3 linked regions of the Homo sapiens genome follow. The protein of the gene in region 2 interacts with the protein of the main gene of each other region in a pairwise test. Each region holds a gene or a part of one and is shown on either strand. Other genes may lie near its edges.

Region 1 (6,255 bases), on a different chromosome or scaffold from region 2:
CATGTTGCTGTATTCTTGGGCGAGTACGCTGGTGACATGTTGCTGTATTCTTGGGTGAGAATGCTGAGGACATGCTGCTGTATTCTTGGGCGAGTACATTGGTGACATGCTGCTGTGTTCTTAGGTGAGTACACTGGTGAAACAATGCCCAATCGCACGGCCAAGAGATTTGAGGAGCAGGGACATCTGGTAAGCAGACTTCAGTTTCTTTTCAGTAATGTGCCCCTCTTATGCTCTCCTCAGGGTTTAGCATGCATCCCTTAAACAAAGAAAGTAGCCTCATATAAGCAATGGTTTTGTGACTAGAGTGCCTCAGTCCATTATTGCTGCTATAAGATAATAATTGACCTGGGTAATTGATAAAGAACAGAAATGTACTTTCTCAGAGTCCTGAAGGCTGGGAAGTCCAAGATCAAGGTGCTGATATCTGGTGTGGGCCTTCTTACTGTGTCTTCACATATTGGAAGGCAGAAGGGCAAGAGAGCATGAATATGTTGTCCTCACATGGCAGAAGAACAGAAAGGGGTGAATGCCCTCTCTCAAGTCCTTCTTGGAGCAGCACTAATTCATTCCAAGTACCTTTTGTTAGGCCCCACCTCCCAACACTCTTGCATTGGGGATGAAGTTTCTAATACATGAATTTTGGGGGACACATGCAGACCATGGCATAAAGGAACCTCTCTCCCCACATGGAGTACAACTGAGCAGGGAACCCAGCTGAGCAGCTGAAGTAAGCAGCCTAAGAGGAGTGAACACTCTGCCTGGGGAAGAGAGAAAACAACAGCAGAGAGACTTGTGAGATTTTCAGAAATAATTGAGTAGGGGAAAAGATTCCCCACAAACAACAAGATGAGGATAGATTATTCTTATTTGGATAGGAAAGGAAAGGATATTGTCTGGGTGCAGTGGCTCACACCTGCAATCCCAGCACTTTGGGAGGCCAAGGTAGGAGGATCACTGGAGGCCAGGAGTTTGAGACCAGCCAGAGCAACATGGCAAGGCCCCATCTCTACAAAAAGTTTAAAAGTTAGCTGGGTATGGTGATACATGCCTATATTCCCAGCTACCTAGGAGGCCAAGGCGGGAAGATTCCTTAAGCCCAGAAGTTTGAAGGTGCAGTAAGCTGTGGTCACGTCACTGCAATCCAGCCCAGGTGACAGAGGAAGACTTCATCTAAAAAAAAAAAAGTGATCCCCAGTAATATAGTTTGCATGCTTCCTCCAAATCTTATGTTGGTGGGGCCTGCTGGGAGGTGTTTGGATCATGGGTGTAGATTTTTCATGAATGGTTTAGCACCATCTCCTTGGTGATGAATAAGTTCGAGCAAGATCTGGTTGTTTAAAAATATGTGGCACTGACCAGGCATGGTGGCTCATGCATGTCATCTCAACACTTTGGGAGGCTGAGGTGGGCAGATCACCTGAGGTCAGGAGTTCGAGACCAGCCTGACCAACAGGGAGAAACCCTGTCTCTACTAAAAATACAAAATTAGCCAGGTGTGGTGGTGCATGCCTGTACTCCCAGCTATTCGGGAGGCTGAGGCAGGAGAATCACTTGAACCTGGGAAGCGGAGGTTGCGGTGAGCCGAGATCATGCCATTGTACTCCAGCCTGAGTAACAAGAGCAAAACTCCATCTCAAAAAAAAAATGTGTGGCCTCTGTCCCTCCACCAGCTCTCTCTTTCTCAGCTGTCACCATGTGGCATGCCTGCTCCTGCTTTGCCTTCTACCATGAATAAAAGCTCCCTGAGGGCCTCACCAGAAGCTGAGCAGATGTCGGTGCCATGCTTGTACAACTAGCAGAACCAGGAGCCAATTAAACCTTTTTTATTTATAAATTACCCAGCCTCAGATATTTCTTTATGGCAACACAAAAAATACAGAAAACTGTACCAGGAATGGTATGTTGCTATAAAGTCACCTGAAAATGTGGAGGTGACTTTGGAACTGGGTAATGGCCAGAGATTGGAAGATTTTTGGAGGGCTCAGAAGAAGACAGAAAGATGAGGAAAAGGTGGGAACTCCTTTGAGACTGGTTAAATGGTTGTGTCCAAAATAATTAAAGTGATAAGAACAATGAAGTCCAGCCTGATGAGGTCTCAGATGGAAATGAGGAACTTACTGAAAACTAAAACAAAGATCACTTGTGTTACACCTTGGCAGAGAGCTTGACCATATTGTGCTTCATGCCCTAGGGGGCTCTGAAAATTTCTACTTAGGAGTGATGACTTAGGATATCTAGTGGAAGAAATTTCTAAGCAGCAAACATTCAAGCTGTGGCCTGACTGAATCTAACATCGTATTCTCACATGCAAGAGCACATAAATGAATTAAAGTTGGAATTTATATTTAAAAGGGAATCAAAGTGTAAAAGTTTGGAAACTTTGCAGCATGGCCATGTGGCAGAGAATGAAAAAGCATTATCAGGAGAGGAATCCAAGCAGGCTATAGAGCAACCACCTGCTAGAGATATTAGCATGACTCAAAAAACAAACAAAAAAACCCAAGTGCTAATAGCCAACACAATTGGAAAAGACTTCAAATGCATTTCAAAAGTGTTTGAGACAGCCCCTCTCATCACTGACCTAGAGGTCTAGGAGGACACCATGGTTTCAGGGGCTCACCCCAGGCCCTCACTGCCCTGCATAGCCTTGGAGCACTGCTCCCCACACATAGGCTACTCCAGCTCCAGCCTCAGCTCAAAAGACCCCAAATGTAACTCTGGCTTCAGAGGGTGCAAGCCATAAGCCTTGGTAGCTCCCATGTGGTGTTAAGCCTGTAGGTGCGTAGAATACAAGAGTGAAGGAGGCTTGGGATCCTCTACCTAGATTGCAGAGGATTTATGAGAAAGCCTGGGCACTCAGGCAGAAGCCTGCTGCAGGGGCAGAGCCCGCACAGAGGATATATACTAGGGCAGTGTAGAGGGGAAATGTGGAGTAGGAGGCCCACACAGAGTCCCCACTGGGGCATTGCTTAATTGAGCTGTGGGGAGGAGGACACCATCCTCCAGGCCCCAGAATGGTAGAGCCACTGGCAGCTTACATCTTGAGCATGGAGAAGCTGCAGGCACACAACTCCAACCCATGAGAGCAGCTGCAGGGTGCGAACCTTGCAAAGCCACAAGGGTGGAGTTCCCCAAGGCCTTAGGAGCCCACCCCTCACTCCAGTGTACCCTGGATGTGGGACTGGGAGTCCAAGGACATTATTTTGGAGCTTTAAGATTTAATGGCTGCCCTGCTGGATTTCAGACATGCATGGGGTCTGTAGCCCCTTCCTTTGGGCTGATTTCTCCCTTTTGGAATGGGAATGTTTACCCAATGCCTCCACCCTCATGTATCTTCAAAGTAAATAATGTGTTTTGATTTTCACAAGTTCATTGGTGGAAGGGACTTGGACTTGGGACTTTGGACTTGATGTTGGAATGAGTCAAGACATTGAGAGGACTGTTGGGAAGAGATGATTCTATTCTGCAATGTAAGGACATGAGATTTGAGGGGTCAAGGGGATAATGATACAGTTGGGATGTCCCCTCCAAATCTCTTGTCGAAATGTAATCCCCAGTGTTGAAGGAGGGGCCTGCAAGGAGGTGTTTAGGTCATGGGGGCGGATCCCTCATGACTGGCTTAGCGCCATCTCCTTGGTGATGAGTGTGTTCACTCAGATCTGGTTGTTCGCAAGTGTGTGGCCCCTCCTCACCCCTTGCTCCCACTCTCACGATGTGGTGAGCCTGCTCCTGCTTCACCTTCCACCATGAGGAAAAGCTCCCTGAGGGCCTGCCCAGAAGCTGAGCAGAGGTGGGTGCCATGCTTGTGCAGCCTGCAGAACCATGAGCCATTCTAACCTTTCCTTTATAAATTACCCAGCTTCAAGTATTTCTTTAGAGCAATGCAAAACTGAGAATGGCATGAGTAAAATATAAAGACCATGGATAATTTTGAAATCTAAAAATGTGAAATTAATATTCCTGGGGGAGTCAACACAGGAAAGATGAGAGCACGTGGGCAAAGGCTGTTGCCCATTGGTCACATGTGGTCAGCAGAGAGCAGGTGACCAGCACCCTGGAGCTTTGCGGGAAGCACCAGACAGCCTGGAGCTGAGGTTTCAATTGTAGGGGCCAAAACAAATAGGGAAAAAGACAAATTTAGTAAACAAAGAAAGTAGATGCTCAACTGAGCCAGGAGGAAGTCACTAGCAAAGAGGAAAAAAAATAGAGCTCTGGAAAAATAGCGTAAACAGTCACAAGGAAGCGACCCTGTATTGTGCCTGACCTCTGGACAGGTATATAAAGAGCCCGGGCTCAGGGGGCTCCACACCTGCACCTCCCTCTCACCTGCTCCTCTACCTGCTCCACCCTCAATCCACCAGAACCATGGGCTGCTGTGGCTGTTCCGAAGGCTGTGGCTCCGGCTGTGGGGGCTGTGGCTCCGGCTGTGGGGGCTGTGGCTCTGGCTGTGGGGGATGTGGCTCCAGCTGCTGTGTGCCCGTCTGCTGCTGCAAGCCCGTGTGCTGCTGTGTGCCAGCCTGTTCCTGCTCCAGCTGTGGCTCCTGTGGGGGCTCCAAGGGAGGCTGTGGCTCCTGTGGGGGCTCCAAGGGGGGCTGTGGCTCTTGTGGGGGTTCTAAGGGGGGCTGTGGTTCTTGTGGCTGCTCCCAGTGCAGCTGCTATAAGCCCTGCTGCTGCTCCTCAGGCTGTGGGTCATCCTGCTGCCAGTCCAGCTGCTGTAAGCCCTGCTGCTGCCAGTCCAGCTGCTGTAAGCCCTGCTGCTGTTCCTCAGGCTGTGGGTCATCCTGCTGCCAGTCCAGTTGCTGCAATCCCTGCTGCTCCCAGTCTAGCTGCTGTGTCCCCGTGTGCTGCCAGTGTAAGATCTGAGGCTCTGGACTCAGGTCTCATGTGAGTCCTGCTAACCCCATTTTCCGAAGCTGTGACCTGTCCTTCATCGTTGAGCCCCAAACCACTGCTCAGGGTCCATTCCTCACTATAAGATGAAGCCATATCTGCCTGCCTTTTCCTAAGGAGAGTCCACCCTAATTAATGTCCATTCCCTCCTAACAAATTCTCTTCCCAAGTCAACTGCAACTGCGGCTGAATCACCCCTCACCCGCTAGCCTTGCCTTTGCTTGTGTATTCAGAGGCCTGAGCTCCTGAACCCACTTGAAGTCCTGTCTTTTCCAGCTGGAGCAGCTGGGCATGAGTGTCCCACCTGCAACAAGGTGGGCGTTTAAGAGGCTTCCTTGGAGTGGCTTTGCCTGTCCAACACTCTGCTTTATCTTAAATGAAAAGTTGCAAACTAATAAAAATACCATGCCGACAAACTGAAACACATATCTTGCTGATTTCTCTGTTGTTCGGGGTCATTACTATGGCTATGGCTATTGTTTTCTTGTTCTTGTTGTGTTTCGGACTGCGTGGGTCTGATGCTGATGTTGCTGGAAGGTGCTAGGATGGGGCTGGCTGTCTCCTCTGCCTCTCATCTCCTTCCTGGCTGACCCCTCTTTTCTCAGAACCCCTCTCTTCCTAGGTCTTTCCAGCTATTGATCTGATGGAGACAGGACTGTTCCTCAGGCCAGGGCCACAGAAGCAGAAGAGGCTGCTGAAAACTCTGGGGAGTTCAGACTTGCCTCCTTTCCCTGGTCCAGGCCTCTGCCATCTTCCTTTGGGAAGTTTTTGTAACCAACTTACTCTGATTGTCTTTGTTGTTACACAGCCTGTTGCCTCTGTAAATAAACACTCCTAGCACCAAGCCAATATTGCTTTTTAAGAATTTTGAAAGGGCCGGGCGTAGTGGCTCACGCCTATAATCCCAGCACTTTGGGAGGCCGAGGCAGGCGGATCACTTGAGGTTAGGAGTTTGCGACCTGACTGGCCAACATGGTGAAACCCTGTCTCTACTAAAAATATAAAAATTAGCTGAGTGTGGTGGCACGTGTCTGTAATCCTGGCTACTTCGGAGGCTGAGGGAGGAGAATGGCTTCAACCTGGGAGGGGGAGGTTGTGATGAGTCGAGGTCGCGCCACTGCACTCCATTCTGGGCGACAGAGCAAGACTCCGTCAAAAAAAAAAAAAGGCAATATTAATAGAGTTGAATTATTTCAAGTTATTTGGAAACACAGCAATTTATTGGTGGGATATGTCCTAAGCATAGAAAGAACACAAAAATAAAATTCCTAAGCTATTTTTAGTAGTCATGGTGGCAGCAGTGGTGTCGTTATTCTGCTGTGAATGCTGTATGGAAAAAGCAAATGCATAATTAGGTTGGTA
Region 2 (7,026 bases):
CTTCTGGCCTCAAGTAATCCTCCCACCTCGACCTCCCAAAGTACTGGGATTACAGGCATGAACAGGCACTGCATCTAGCCTTTGGGGTTTATTTTTATTTCATCAAGCTTGTTGTCATTCCAAGTAAAATATATGCCTCAGTGATTTCTCTGTCATTTTCTTTTCACACTGAAGAAATATAAAATGCATATTGACCGAAACACTGGCATCATCGAAATGTTCATGGAAAAGCTACAGGATGAGGATGAGGGAACGTACACTTTCCAGCTTCAAGATGGAAAAGCAACTAACCATTCTACTGTTGTTCTCGTTGGAGATGGTAAGAATTCCGTGGAACATTAACCAGCAGGCTTTGCTACTCCCTTCAATCTAAGTACCCCATGGCACAAAAGTTGTTATTTGAAAGGTAGTAGGAATTTTTTCTTAATTGACTTCTAATGTTCAAAATACAATTTTCAGCTGGGCGCGGTGGCTCATGCCTATAATCCCAGCACTTTGAGAGGCCGAGGCGGGTGGATCACCTAAGGTCAAGAGTTTAAGACCAGCCTGGCCAACATGGTGAAACCCCGCCTCTATTAAAAATACAAAAATTAGCCAGGCATGGTGGTGTGCACCTGTAGTCCCAGCTACTTGGGAGGCTGAGGCATGAGAATCATTTGAACCCGGGAAGCAGAGATTGCAGTGAGCCAAGATCGCACCACTGCACTCCAGCCTGGGGGACAGAGTGAGACCCTGTCTCAAAAAAAAAAAAAAAAAAAATACAGTTTTCAGTTAATACTTTACATGGTATTTTATTTCATGGAAATGAAAGTGAATTTAAAGGAACACCAAATTTATTCCTAGCTCACAGGCAAGACTGCGTTTAAATACTTTCATATATAAACAAATGTTTATTGCTAAAATTCTCCAGTGAGGGAGATTGCAATACAACAAAGACTGTATGTGTCTCAGAAACAAACCATGAGACTGTTTTGCCACGTGTACTTACTGTAAATTACTAAAATTGAGAAGAAAAATATGCAAAAGTAGTGCCTGCCGAATCTACTAATCATACATTGTAACTGGATTGTAGTAAATCAGCTGCTCACTTACTACCACCCAGATTTAAAATGTGGCAGTTACGAAGGCAATGGAAAGGCCGGCCAGATCTCTGTATTTGCAACATCCAATATTATGTCACTGTTTCCTAGCTTTATGACCTTGTACAATTTATTTAACCTTCCTAAGCCTATTTCTTCATCTATAAAGATAAAAAATGAGCAGGGTTGTCACAATGTATGAGTGTTACAATAATGAATATAAATCACTTAGTGCAGTGGCTGACATGTGCATTTATACCACCCAACTCAATTTCACACTTCCTTGTTTTTCAATTTGTAGTTTTCAAAAAGCTCCAGAAAGAAGCTGAATTCCAGCGGCAAGAATGGATCAGGAAACAAGGTAAAAATAGGCCGTGGATAAAGAGAAAATTTTTAATTTTTTTGTACAAAAGATTCCAAGGTTATTTCCATAACAAATTAAAATGAATATTATTGATTATGTTAATAATGCCTAGTAAATTAAAATAATTAAAAATATTTACTGTTAAATATGTAGACATTAAAATATTTAAAAGCTAAATCTAGAATTTTAAAAATCTGACTTCAGATGTAAATCACCTTAGGACTTAAGTGTGAGCTTTGATTTTGCATTTGTGATTAATAGAGTAATTGCTAATGTCATTAAAATTTTATAGGTCCTCACTTTGTTGAGTATTTGAGCTGGGAAGTGACTGGTGAATGTAATGTACTATTGAAATGCAAGGTAAGAGGTAGATAAATTTTTAATATTTGATTCAAGGGAAATAAAATAGAATGTAGAGAAGAGGAAGCTCAATTTTTCATCTCTTCCATCTGAGCCAAAATGATAAGTGGGACACATATTTACTGTTCAATGTTACTGTAACCATTTGTTGATAAGAAAGATTTAAAATAAAATGACATAAAATATGACAAGGCAAGGTGATCATTCCTAGTCACTACTCATGATCTAGTTAGTAACACCCTAGACTTTTATCTAATTAGTAATCTCCAAAGACTCTCACGTTTTTGTTTTAAGCCAAATCTGTATTCTAAGTCATAGACCTATTCCAGAATCACTCCAGCTGCAATGTTTCGTGGACCTTGCCATGTAAATTGTGAGGCTGGTGCAACAATACCCCTGGGTATTCCCCAGCTGTGCCACTGACTCCAAGGGAGACATGTGGAAAAGAGTTGGCAGCTCACAACCAATTGTCTTATTAGGACTTTGGAAAGATTCAGGAAAAAAAAATTCTATACAGCATTCTAAACAAGTTTGTACTTTAGCATGTGGTGTGTAGCTGAGTCATCAGAAATGTTTTGGGTAAGGAACCGGTGGGTGAGGTTGGAGCGTGAAGGTCCTGCTGGCTGACAAGGACAGGTGGAAGCATAGGTGTGGCATTTGGTCTGGATTTCACAATTGTCATGATAAAAGCCAGAACCCAAGTGCCCCAGTGTCTACTAGATGTGATAAACTCAAAGAAACAGCAGTCTATCAGAAATACATATAAGGAAAATCAGTTCTAGGTTTTAGCCTCACAGGAAATGGCAACGCTGCTTGAAAAACTCTTTCTCTGGCAGCAGCTGAAGCCCTCACCTTCTCTCTCATCCCAGCTGCTCCGTCTTGCTGTCCCACTCACTTCTTCATTTGCGTGGCCCCTCCCTATAAGCTATCCTTTTTCAAAAGCCCACACATCCCTCGCCTTCTGCGCTTGCTGTTTCCCTCTGCACCAGAGGAGCTCTGGTGTCCTGTGATGGCCTTCCTCAGGACAATCAGCCCCATACCCAGATTCTGAGCAACCAAGGGCAGTCTGGAAATGGATTGTGAATATTCACACAGTTCTGTTATGCTGTCGTTCCAATGCCTGGAATGACGTTCTTTCAGCTTCTCTGACAAAATCCTTTCCCAGGCCCAGCTCAGTCATCTCTAGAAGGCCTCCCGCTTCCTCTGTCTTCGCATAGCTCTTTGTTCCGTTACTGTGGCAATTCCTGTAAATTTAGCCACTCACGTGTCGCATTACAGTTCATGGAGTATGCGCAGCGAATCATTCAGACTCACTGGAGTATCGTGGGTCTTGCTTGGCGCTAGTCTACTCAAAAAAAAAAATAAATAAATAAAAAGTAGGAGGGGCAGGGAGCGGTGGCTCATGCCTGTAATCCCAGCACTTTGGGAGGCCAAAGCAGGCAGATCACTTGAGGTCAGGACTTCAAGACCAGCCTGGCCAACATGGTGAAACCCCGTCTCTACTAAAAATACAAAAATTAGCTGGGCATGGTGGCAGGCACCTGTGGTTCCAGCTAGTTGGCAGGCTGAGGCAGGAGAATCACTTGAACCCGGGAGGCTGAGGTTGCAGTGAGCCGAGATCATGCCACTGCACTCCAGCCTGGGTGATAGAGTGAGACTCTGTCTCAAAAAAAAAAAAAAAAAAAGAACGTAGGAGGAACCCTAGCTTGCACACTGGGACCTTCCTCTCCCTCAGGAGTCCACATGTGGAGCTATGACCTTTGCCATCCCGGACAACAGAAAGCTCAGATGCAAGGAGACAAGATCCACTTTGGGCAGGTGCAGGAAGTCACCACGGCTTTAAAAAAAAAAAAAGCCCAAAAAAACTTCATGCCCTGAGGAACTAGTATCTTTTCTAACAACTGCCTAAACAGAGCTTCTGGGATCCACACAAGGGATGTGTCCAAATTTCATGAGCAATGTACTCAGCAAAGCCCAAAGCTGCGGAGTGCATTTCTAGTCCTCTGGGTCCAGACACAGCTTTCCAATCGAGGTCATTTTTATCGTAAGCAATGTCAGCTGGTAACACACTTTCTACAATTCAGGAACCAGTTTCCAGGGTCATAAAGAATGATTGTGTGTAGTGGTTTCACTACAGTTGCCAGGGTGGTTCCTATGTTTATTTATTAGCTGAAATTGTTTCACATTTTAAAACCTGTATATTGTCACGTATAATGAGACAACATTGTCTTTGTCTGTTGGTTTTATGGTTGTATTTTCTCTTTGGGGAATGGTATGTAGTTTTCACCCATTATTCAGTGGGGTCTTTGAGACGGTTTTCTTGATTTGTAGGAAGTCTTTACTTTTTCATACAATTTGAATTATACAAGAAATACATGAGTATATTCTCCTTTGTAAAAAAAATTCAAGCATTGTAGATGAAACTCAAGATCCCTTTAACCATATGCAGTTGTTTAGTCCATTTGAAATAGATGATATGATGAGAAGATTAGTGTATCTAAGTGAGTCTCCTCGAAATTGCTAAGTAATTAATTTACTTAGCATACCTCCCCTCCACATATATTTGCAATGCTTCATTTATCTTTCATTAAACTTTTAGATATAGATTGGCGCTTACTCATTCTGTTCCTTTAATAAAGCCATTTGTTTTTGTAACACAGCCTGTATTTTAATCTGATGGGATTTTTCTCCCTTTGGTTTTGTGACTTCTATTTTCATTTAAGTTTGTATGTCAGTATGAATGTATCTATTCTCTCTTTTCTTTCCTACCACATGATTTTAGAGTCAATTTTCACTGCTGGAAATAGAGATGCTATTGATTTAGGTTTATTCATTGGTGTCCACTTGATTCTAAACTCTTTTCTCAATTAAAATAGTTTTCAATTCATTCCTTTAGAAATCTGTGTCTTCTCACTCCACGTTCAGTGCTTTTTCTTTTATATCTTGCTGCATTAAGAACTATTCAACTTCACAAGAGTACACTTTCTTATTTTAAGAAAAGTAATTATGGTTTTTCTCCTAGGTGGCAAATATTAAGAAGGAGACTCATATTGTGTGGTACAAAGATGAGAGGGAGATATCAGTGGATGAAAAGCATGACTTTAAGGATGGTATATGTACCCTGCTTATAACAGAGGTAGGCGATTATAAATGTAAAATGTAATATATTAGCTCTCTACCCTCTATCTTACCCCAAAACAGTAACTAGATTCTGTATTCCTTTCATGACCAGGGGATTTATATTAGCTTACTTCCAACTGCTGTAGGAACACAAAAGCTTCTCTAACCTTGTGATGTGTGTGGATTTGTTAGGTAGCAAACCAGTATGAGCTGAATGCCACAACTCTTGCTTTTCTGAGTTGCTTTTATCCATATATGGGCAGTGAAGTGGATCATTCTTCATTTGTGCTTAAGCCTCGTGGTCCTAAAAGTACAGAGACATCAGACATGGTATTCATTTAAGGATAGATTTTTATCTACTTCTTGTCTAAAAGAGCACAGCATTTAAATATATCACTATAAAACTAGTGATCACTAGTTTTTAATAAATGAAGGCAGAGTAAAAAGTAAGGACATTAAGCCTCATATCAATTACAGCCTTGGAAGGTAAAAAGTCAGGACTGCTAGCTCGCTGGTCAAATTATTATGGAGAGGTGCATCTCTGCATCTGTGAACGGTTCACCACTCACAAGTTAGATGCTTGTTCAAAGAGTGTTTTGATGGCAATTCTGTAAATCAAGGGCCTTTAAAAATGCAGATAGCAGGTGAGGTGCAGTGGCTCACACCTGTAATCCCAGTGCTTTTGGTAGGTCAAGGCTTGAGGCCAGGCGTTCAAGGATACAGTGAGCTATAATCACACATCTGCACTCCAGCCTGGCTGATAGAGTGAGACCCTTGTCTCAAAAAAAAAAAAAAAAAAAAAAAAAAAAAAAAAAAAAAAAAAAGCAGCAGCAGCAGAAGAAGCAGAAGAAAAAAAAAAATCACAGATACCGTGCCCTGGGGCTACGAAAGGTGCAATGTGGTATATCTATTCCCCCTTAGTTTTCCAAGAAAGATGCTGGGATTTATGAAGTTATCCTGAAAGATGACCGAGGAAAAGATAAGAGCAGACTGAAGCTTGTGGATGAAGGTCAGTCCACCAACTGCTGGGGTCTGTCTTGTGTGTTTCTGCATACAGCTTACCAGAATGATGATTGAGGCCGAGCTGACGATTGAAATCATGCTGATTTTTTTTGTCCACAGATTTTGGCTTAATTGAAATTCCAACAGAGTGAACTGTTTTATTCAAAAATACCTCACTTCTAGTCATCTTCGAAATCAGAAGTGTATTTTTGATCCTTAGAGAATTTATAGTCCAGAGTCCACAAGGGATCTGTTTTCAATTTAAATCATTTTTGTTTCAACTCTATAAAAATGTTCCAGGCTCAAAAACTTCTGTGAGAAGCATGACAAAAAATAGTCCACTCTAAAGGTAGCAAGCAAGATTTATATATGAAATGTGAAGCCTTGCAGTTTTTAGCACAGCAAGAAAGCAAATTCCATTTTTCAGAGACTACTAAGGACAAATATATCATGATGATGAAAATCTACATGGGAACTCCAAACTTACAATTTTGTTCCTGAACAAGATTTTTAAAACAATATTGCTAACAAACAGCAGAAGTCTGACTAATTTCACCTTCCTACTTTGGGTGGAAGTGGGGCTAAATGTGTTTATTGGCAAAAAGCATTATCAGGCTGATGAAGGCCAGGAGACCTACATGGTTAATTCATTATGAATCGATGACACGGCTAAGAAAATGTCCTCTAATGTAAACTAAGGCTTCCTGGGAATTAAGAAGAAAGAGAATCCCAAAGCCAAGAACCTTCCTAGAAATCTCTTGTGGCCCTTTCTCTAGAATGTAAATATGGCGATTGTGACAAAGAATTCAAGGGAAAAAAAATCAAAATAAGCAGGGATCTTTTAAAACCTGATAAAATTGAACTATTTCCTCAAAGAATACTCATTATCAGTGGGTCGACAAATTCACCTTGTTTCCATTTCCTTTCAACCAGAAAGGGAATTTTTGAGAGCTAAGAATTTGAGATTTAACCTTACATTGAGAATTTTTATGCTAAAGTTTTGGCTCTGAATCTCTCTCCACAGCCTTTAAGGAACTGATGATGGAAGTATGCAAAAAAATAGGTGAGTCAAACATTTCGCACCACAACAATGCTTTATGA
Region 3 (7,026 bases), on a different chromosome or scaffold from region 2:
GAGCGCTCCTAGGAGGGAATGATGTAGCCTTTGCCTTTGATGGGGAGGAATCTTGGTGAGGGGTAGGGGGTGGGGTGGACGTTTCTTAATTGCACACTCCCCTTCTATGCAATTCTGGTAAGCGCTCCCACAGGGGACACTCCCAGTGAGGGTGTCAGCCTGCTCTACCCAGGCTTGGAGGACTCCTCCTCCCCAGCCTCTCACTGGGACATCCGGATCCTGAAGGGGACTGTGGGTTTCTGTCCTTCTCTGGTACCCAGTATCCGATGGAGAAGGTGCCTGGCGCCCGGATGCCAGTGCAGATACGGGTCAAGCTGTGGTTTGGGCTCTCAGTGGATGAGAAGGAGTTCAACCAGTTTGCTGAGGGGAAGCTGTCTGTCTTTGCTGAAACCGTGAGTACCTGCCAGCCCCCACCTCTGCCTCCCACTACCTGGAGCTGCCTTGGCCCCCTGCTCACGCCTCATTCTTCCTGGCCCTCCAGTATGAGAACGAGACTAAGTTGGCCCTTGTTGGGAACTGGGGCACAACGGGCCTCACCTACCCCAAGTTTTCTGACGTCACGGGCAAGATCAAGCTACCCAAGGACAGCTTCCGCCCCTCGGCCGGCTGGACCTGGGCTGGAGATTGGTTCGTGTGTCCGGAGAAGACGTGAGTCGTGGGCAGGGAGGGCTGGGGAGAGCCAGGCCAGGCTGCCCACCATGGACTGCACCCTCCTTTTGGAGGCAGGCTGGGGTCTGTTGATCCCTCTGCTTGCTCCTGCGCTGGTCATAGGAACTTCCGCTGAACTCTCCCAGGACTGAGGCTTGCCAGGCAGCAGTCCTTTCCAGAAGGGCTTGGATGGTCAGACAGTCCTTTATTCTTTTCATTAAAAAAATTTTTTTTTTTTTTTGAGACAGAGTCTCACTCTGTTTGGAGGCTGGAGTGCAGTAGCATGATCGCAGCTCATTGCAGCCTCAACCTCCTGGCCTCAGGTGATCCTCCTGCTCCTGCCTTCTGAGTAGCTGGGACCACAGGCGTGCGCCATCATGCCTGGCTAATTTTTAAATTTTTTGTAGAGACAGGGTCTCACTGTGTTGCCCAGGCTGGTCTTGAACTCCTGGGCTCAAGTGATTCTCCCTCCTTGAACTCCCAAAGTGCTGGGGTTACAGGCTTGAGTCACCACGCCTGGCCAGGCCTTTATTCTCTCTCTTTTTTTTTTTTGAGACGGAGTCTCGCTCGGTCGCCCAGGCTGGAGTGCAGTGGCGCGATCTCGGCTCACTGCAACCTCCACCTCCCGGGTTCACGCCATTCTCCGGCCTCAGCCTCCTGAGTAGCTGGGACTACAGCTGCCTGCCACTACGCCCAGCTAATTTTATTTTGTATTTTAGTAGAGACGAGGTTTCACCATGTTAGCCAGGATGGTCTCGATCTCCTGACCTGGTGATCCACCCGCCTCGGCCTCCCAAAGTGCTGGGATTACAGGCTTGAGCCACCGCGCCTGGCCCAGGCCTTTATTCTTAAGCCTTCGTTCTGTGTGGTGCCCACTGGGTGTGGCCCCATCCTCAAAGACACCCAGGACAAGCCCATCACCTCCTCTGCACGTGAACCCTTCTCGTGTCTGGGCTGCTCACACATCCCCTGAGTGGTCCTTTCTCTGTCAGTCCCTCTCAGATCCACGTGGTCCTTCTCCATGTCTATTGCCGCCTTTGCCTCTCTCTCCTCTCCTTTTCCTGTTTGGTTGGCATTCAACTCTGTGGTGTTTAACTTTTTTTTACTTAAAAAAATTGAAGTATAACATATTATACAGTCAAGCACTCAAATCTTATGAGCACAACTTGATAAAACTTTATATTTTTACAACTATCCATCAAGCCTCGACTGCCCATCCTCCTTTTGCTGTCTTCAGTTGGCCCCCTTTTCTCTTTATCTTGGGTGATGTGCTCTTTTGTCCCCGATTATCTCGGAGTGTCCCTAGGTCTCCTTTTCACTGTCTGCCTTGGTCTCTTGCACCCTTCCCTCCCCACCCCCCATGTCTCTCATTGTTGGTTGGGGTGAGGCTGACATACGCAGGGGTGCTCTCCAGGAGGTGGTAGATGGATGGGGGCCTCTCCAGCAGAGCAGCAGAGACTCTGACCAGCCCTCCTCCACAGTCTGCTCCATGACATGGACGCCGGTCACCTGAGCTTCGTGGAAGAGGTGTTTGAGAACCAGACCCGGCTTCCCGGAGGCCAGTGGATCTACATGAGTGACAACTACACCGATGTGGTAAAGCAGGCACTCAGGGGCAGGTGGGGTCTAGACATTTGGTCTCTGGAGGCACCTGGTGCTCAGGGACAGGTGGGGCATGTTTCTCTTTGCCCCCTCTTACCTCCGGAGACTTCATGCTTTGATTTCCAAAGGGAAAGTGTGGGGTGCAGTGGTGGCAGGACACTGACTCTGGGGCTCTGCCCTTCTGTCTGGGACTTGGAGGACGTATGTTGTCAAGTTGCATCTTTTCTGCCTCCCTGCTCACATCTGTCTGTCTCCTCTCATTGCTTGCCTGTTCGGTTTTGTCCTTAGAACGGGGAGAAGGTGCTTCCCAAGGATGACATTGAGTGCCCACTGGGCTGGAAGTGGGAAGATGAGGAATGGTCCACAGACCTCAACCGGGCTGTCGATGAGCAAGGTGGGCAGCATGTGGAACCTGGCGAGCCCCATCCCCGGCAAGCTCTCAAGCCATGCTGGTGGGGACGACTGAATGCCAGGGCCCTTCACTGGGCTATTTCACCCAGGGACGCTTCTTGAAGGCACCCCCCACTCCAAGCTGCAAATTAGGACCGAGAGTCAGTGGCCGCTCAAGAGTCTGTGACCATGCCCCAAATTCAGAGATGGTCCCAGGAGAGATGGGGGGAACTGCCAAGCAATGAGTGACCGGTTCCCCCTCCCCCAGGCTGGGAGTATAGCATCACCATCCCCCCGGAGCGGAAGCCGAAGCACTGGGTCCCTGCTGAGAAGATGTACTACACACACCGACGGCGGCGCTGGGTGCGCCTGCGCAGGAGGGATCTCAGCCAAATGGAAGCACTGAAAAGGGTGAGCCAGCAGGTGGTGGGTGGGAGTGAGGCCTGTGGTCACAGGTGGCCAGTAGGCACAGATGCAGACCTGCATGCCCACAGACACATGCATGTGTGCACACAGCATGCACAGACACCTGGGACTCACTGGAGGTGCTCACAGATCACACCCAGCATACCCAAAGATCACACCCAGCATACACACAGATCACACCCAGCATACCCAAAGATCACACCCAGCATACACACAGATCACACCCAGCACACAGATCACACTGGGAACACCCACAGATCACACTCAGCACACACACAGATTACACCCAGCACACACACAGATCACACCCAGCACACAGATTACACCCAGCACACACACAGATCACACCCAGCACACAGATCACACCCACAGATCACACCCAGCGCATGCACAGATCACACCCAGCACACCCAAAGATCACACCCAGCACACACACACAGATCACACCCAACACACCCACAGTTCACACTCAGCACACACAGATCACACCCAACACACCCACAGTTCACATGCAGCACACCCACAGTTCACACCTAGCACACACAGATTACACCTAGCACACCCAGCACACGCACAGCTCACACCCAGCACACCCACAGATCACACCCAGCACATGCACAGATCACAGTCAGCACACACAGATCACACCCAGCACACACAGATCACAGTCAGCACACACAGATCACACCCAGCACACACACAGATCACACCCAGCACACACACATCACACCCAGCACGCACAGATCACACCCACCACACACAGCTCACACCCAGCACACACACATCACACCCAGCACACGCACAGATCACACCCACCACACACAGATCACACCCAGCACACACAGCTCACACCCAGCACACACACAGATCACACCCAGCACATGCAGAGATCACACACAGATCACACCCAGCACACCCACAGATCACACCCAGCACATGCACAGATCACAGTCAGCACACACAGATCACACCCAGCACACACACAGATCACAGTCAGCACACACAGATCACACCCAGCACACACACAGATCACACCCAGCACACACAGCTCACACCCAGCACACACACATCACACCCAGCACATGCACAGATCACACCCACCACACACAGATCACACCCAGCACACACAGCTCACACCCAGCACACACACAGATCACACCCAGCACATGCACAGATCACACACAGATCACACCCAGCACACCCACAGATCACACCGAGCATGGATCACATCCAGCACACCCAGCACAGATCACACTCAGCACACACACATTACACCTAGCACACCCACAGATCACACCCAGCACACACACAGATCACACCCAGCACACCCACAGATCATACCCAGCACACCCACAGATCATACCCAGCACAGATCACACCCAGCACACCCACAGATCACACCCAGCATGGATCACACCCAGCACACCCAGCACAGATTACATCCAGCACACCCAGCACAGATCACACCCAGCACATGCACAGATCACACCTAGCACACCCACAGATCACAACCAGCACAGATCACACCTAGCACACCCACAGATCACACCCAGCACACAGAAATCACACCCAGCACACCCACAGATCACACCCAGCACAGATCACACCCAGCACACCCACAGATGCTTATAGACAGACACACTCAGATGCCCATGATTACAGAAGGTCACATGCAAAGTTCACACACCAACCTGGAAGATGGAAAGACACCCATGGACTTTGTCTTAGGCTGGGTTTCCTGGAGGCAGAAGCTAAGACGTAGATTTGGCTGCACATTATTGGGGCAGTGCCCTCGGGAGTGTGAGGAGCAAGGATGCAGCTTCAGGCAGGTCAGCTGTGGCCTGAGCTGTGGCCTGGGGAAGTTCACAACTCGGAACACCACAGAATCCTCACCTGGAGGCAGGGCTGGGCTTTGTATCCTCTCAGCCATCTGTCTAGGCTTGGGGTTGCTGGGGTGAGCTGGGGCACATACCTATCTCTTCAGTGAGGGGGTTTCCTTTAGCATGGGGGTTCCCTGGAGCAGGTGGCTTCTGGGAGCTGGGAGCTGTCGATGCTGATGGCAGCTGGGGATGGGTGCGCCACACGTGTACATTGGCTGGTGAGGGGGCTGGGGTGGGCCCCGTTGGCATTCATGCAATGCAAGCACACATGCCCACAGTTGAGCACAGATGCCATGGGATACTGTCAGGCCCATCGTGCACATGGATGAGCACACGCAAGCACATGCACTTGCTCCGGGGTCACACAGGGGCCTGTGCACTGCACAGCCTCTGTGCCCGCCTGTCCTGGACCTTCTTGGTCTATGATCTTCCTTCCTAAACACACATTTGAATTTTGGCTCAAGAACCAGACCTCCCTTAGTCCAGGAGTAGCCTGTGGCATGACCTAGGTTCCTTCCTTTCTCCTTGGGGGCAGAGAACCTAGAGAGGACTCTTGCTGGCTCCAGGGAGGGGCAAGGCTTTTGGACAACCAGCTGTTCCTGGTGCTGTGAACCAGACAGATTCAACTTTCTCCCTGAAGGGGCACCCAGCAGACAGAGGCAAAGCCTGCCCAGGCTCATGTGCCTTGCCCACCACCCCACAGCCAGCATCCTTCCTGGAGAGTGGCACAGCTGGCCTCCAGGACTGGCCCTTGTCACTGTGCTCCTGGCCCAGACCTGAGGTGGTGTCTGACAACAGTGCCAGGTCACCCTCTCCCAGGAGCTGAATGGCAAGGGGGCTCCCGGGACTCCCTTCAGGCCCAGGAAAGGGACCCCATGAACGAGGTACAGGGGTGCCTCCATAGCTGAGTTGGGTCTAGCTCCCAGGGGTGAAATTGGCTGTGGTTGGGAAATAGGATCTTCCTTTTACCTCTGAGCTGCAGACCCACTACAGGATGTGAAGATGAAAAAGGAAATGACAAGAAAACTTTGGATTCATGAAATCCACCCAGAATTCAAACAAATAAGCAAGTTAAAAGCCCAGTGTTTTCGTCACTGCGTCAGCCTACCTTCCTTTCTGGCTGTTTGGTTCTTCCCGCAGCCCATGGAGCCTCCTCTCCCCTCCTGATTTTTCTTTTTCTTTTTTCTTTTTTTCTTTTCCTTTTGAGATGGAGTCTCATTCTGTCACCCAGGCTTGAGTGCAGTGGCGCAATCTCGGCTCACTGCAACCTCCACCTCCCAGGTTCAAGCAATTCTCCTGCCTCAGCCTCCCTGGTAGCTGGGATTACAGACATGAGCCACCATGCCTGGCCTCCCCTCCTGATTTTCTGACCTGGGGTTCCTGTGGCTGCAGAAAGCCCCTCTCCTCTAGGTGGCCCTCCCAGGTTTTCCCACCTGGAGGGCACTAGTGTGGGAGCTGGTGGGGAGTTGTCATGGAAGACAGGAAGGCAAAGGTGGAGCCGAGCACAGAACTCCCCCCAGCCTTCCCACCGGCCTCTGAGTCTGCCCCTTCTCTTGTGCAGCACAGGCAGGCGGAGGCGGAGGGCGAGGGCTGGGAGTACGCCTCTCTTTTTGGCTGGAAGTTCCACCTCGAGTACCGCAAGACAGATGCCTTCCGCCGCCGCCGCTGGCGCCGTCGCATGGAGCCACTGGAGAAGACGGGGCCTGCAGCTGTGTTTGCCCTTGAGGGGGCCCTGGTATGTGGGGCTGCACTTGTCCTGGCTTGGGTAGGGTATATCTTGGTTTCCCAGGGCTGTTCGGGCTGATGTGGGAGAGGCACAGGGACCCCAGGTTAGGACTTTTGGATGGAACGCTGGCTGGTCATCCTGGCGTCAGTACCTGTGGGGTGGCATGTGGGGAAAGCAGCCCCAGTCTGGGTGTTCTTCTAAAATGAAAAAGCTCCTTCCTTGGCACTGAAACACTTGCTGCTACTACTTTGAGGTGTCAAGATGAAAGCAGAGGGGAAGATGGCCTTGGCCGTCTGGCTGGCCTGTGCCTGGCTGGCTGGTGTGAAGATGGGCGAGGAGGCCCATGGGAGGAGT

What was found.
Region 1: the proteins of MYOM1 (region 2) and KRTAP5-7 interact in binary tests that used the Homo sapiens proteins (3 or more experiments, as listed by UniProt).
Region 3: the proteins of MYOM1 (region 2) and DYSF interact in binary tests that used the Homo sapiens proteins (3 or more experiments, as listed by UniProt).

Annotation. Positions count from the first base shown.
Region 1 is NC_000011.10:71,522,933-71,529,187, forward strand, and holds KRTAP5-7 (keratin-associated protein 5-7), read left to right. Parts: upstream 1-4,334; 5' UTR 4,335-4,368; coding exon 4,369-4,866; 3' UTR 4,867-5,737; downstream 5,738-6,255. UniProt on the Homo sapiens protein: In the hair cortex, hair keratin intermediate filaments are embedded in an interfilamentous matrix, consisting of hair keratin-associated protein (KRTAP), which are essential for the formation of a rigid and resistant hair shaft through their extensive disulfide bond cross-linking with abundant cysteine residues of hair keratins.
Region 2 is NC_000018.10:3,083,951-3,090,976, reverse strand, and holds part of MYOM1 (myomesin-1), read left to right. Parts: intron 1-174; coding exon 175-319; intron 320-1,380; coding exon 1,381-1,440; intron 1,441-1,735; coding exon 1,736-1,803; intron 1,804-4,825; coding exon 4,826-4,939; intron 4,940-5,844; coding exon 5,845-5,932; intron 5,933-6,949; coding exon 6,950-6,988; intron 6,989-7,026. UniProt on the Homo sapiens protein: Major component of the vertebrate myofibrillar M band. Binds myosin, titin, and light meromyosin. This binding is dose dependent.
Region 3 is NC_000002.12:71,567,691-71,574,716, forward strand, and holds part of DYSF (dysferlin), read left to right. Parts: intron 1-260; coding exon 261-392; intron 393-481; coding exon 482-648; intron 649-2,129; coding exon 2,130-2,244; intron 2,245-2,538; coding exon 2,539-2,644; intron 2,645-2,908; coding exon 2,909-3,051; intron 3,052-6,507; coding exon 6,508-6,681; intron 6,682-7,026. UniProt on the Homo sapiens protein: Key calcium ion sensor involved in the Ca(2+)-triggered synaptic vesicle-plasma membrane fusion.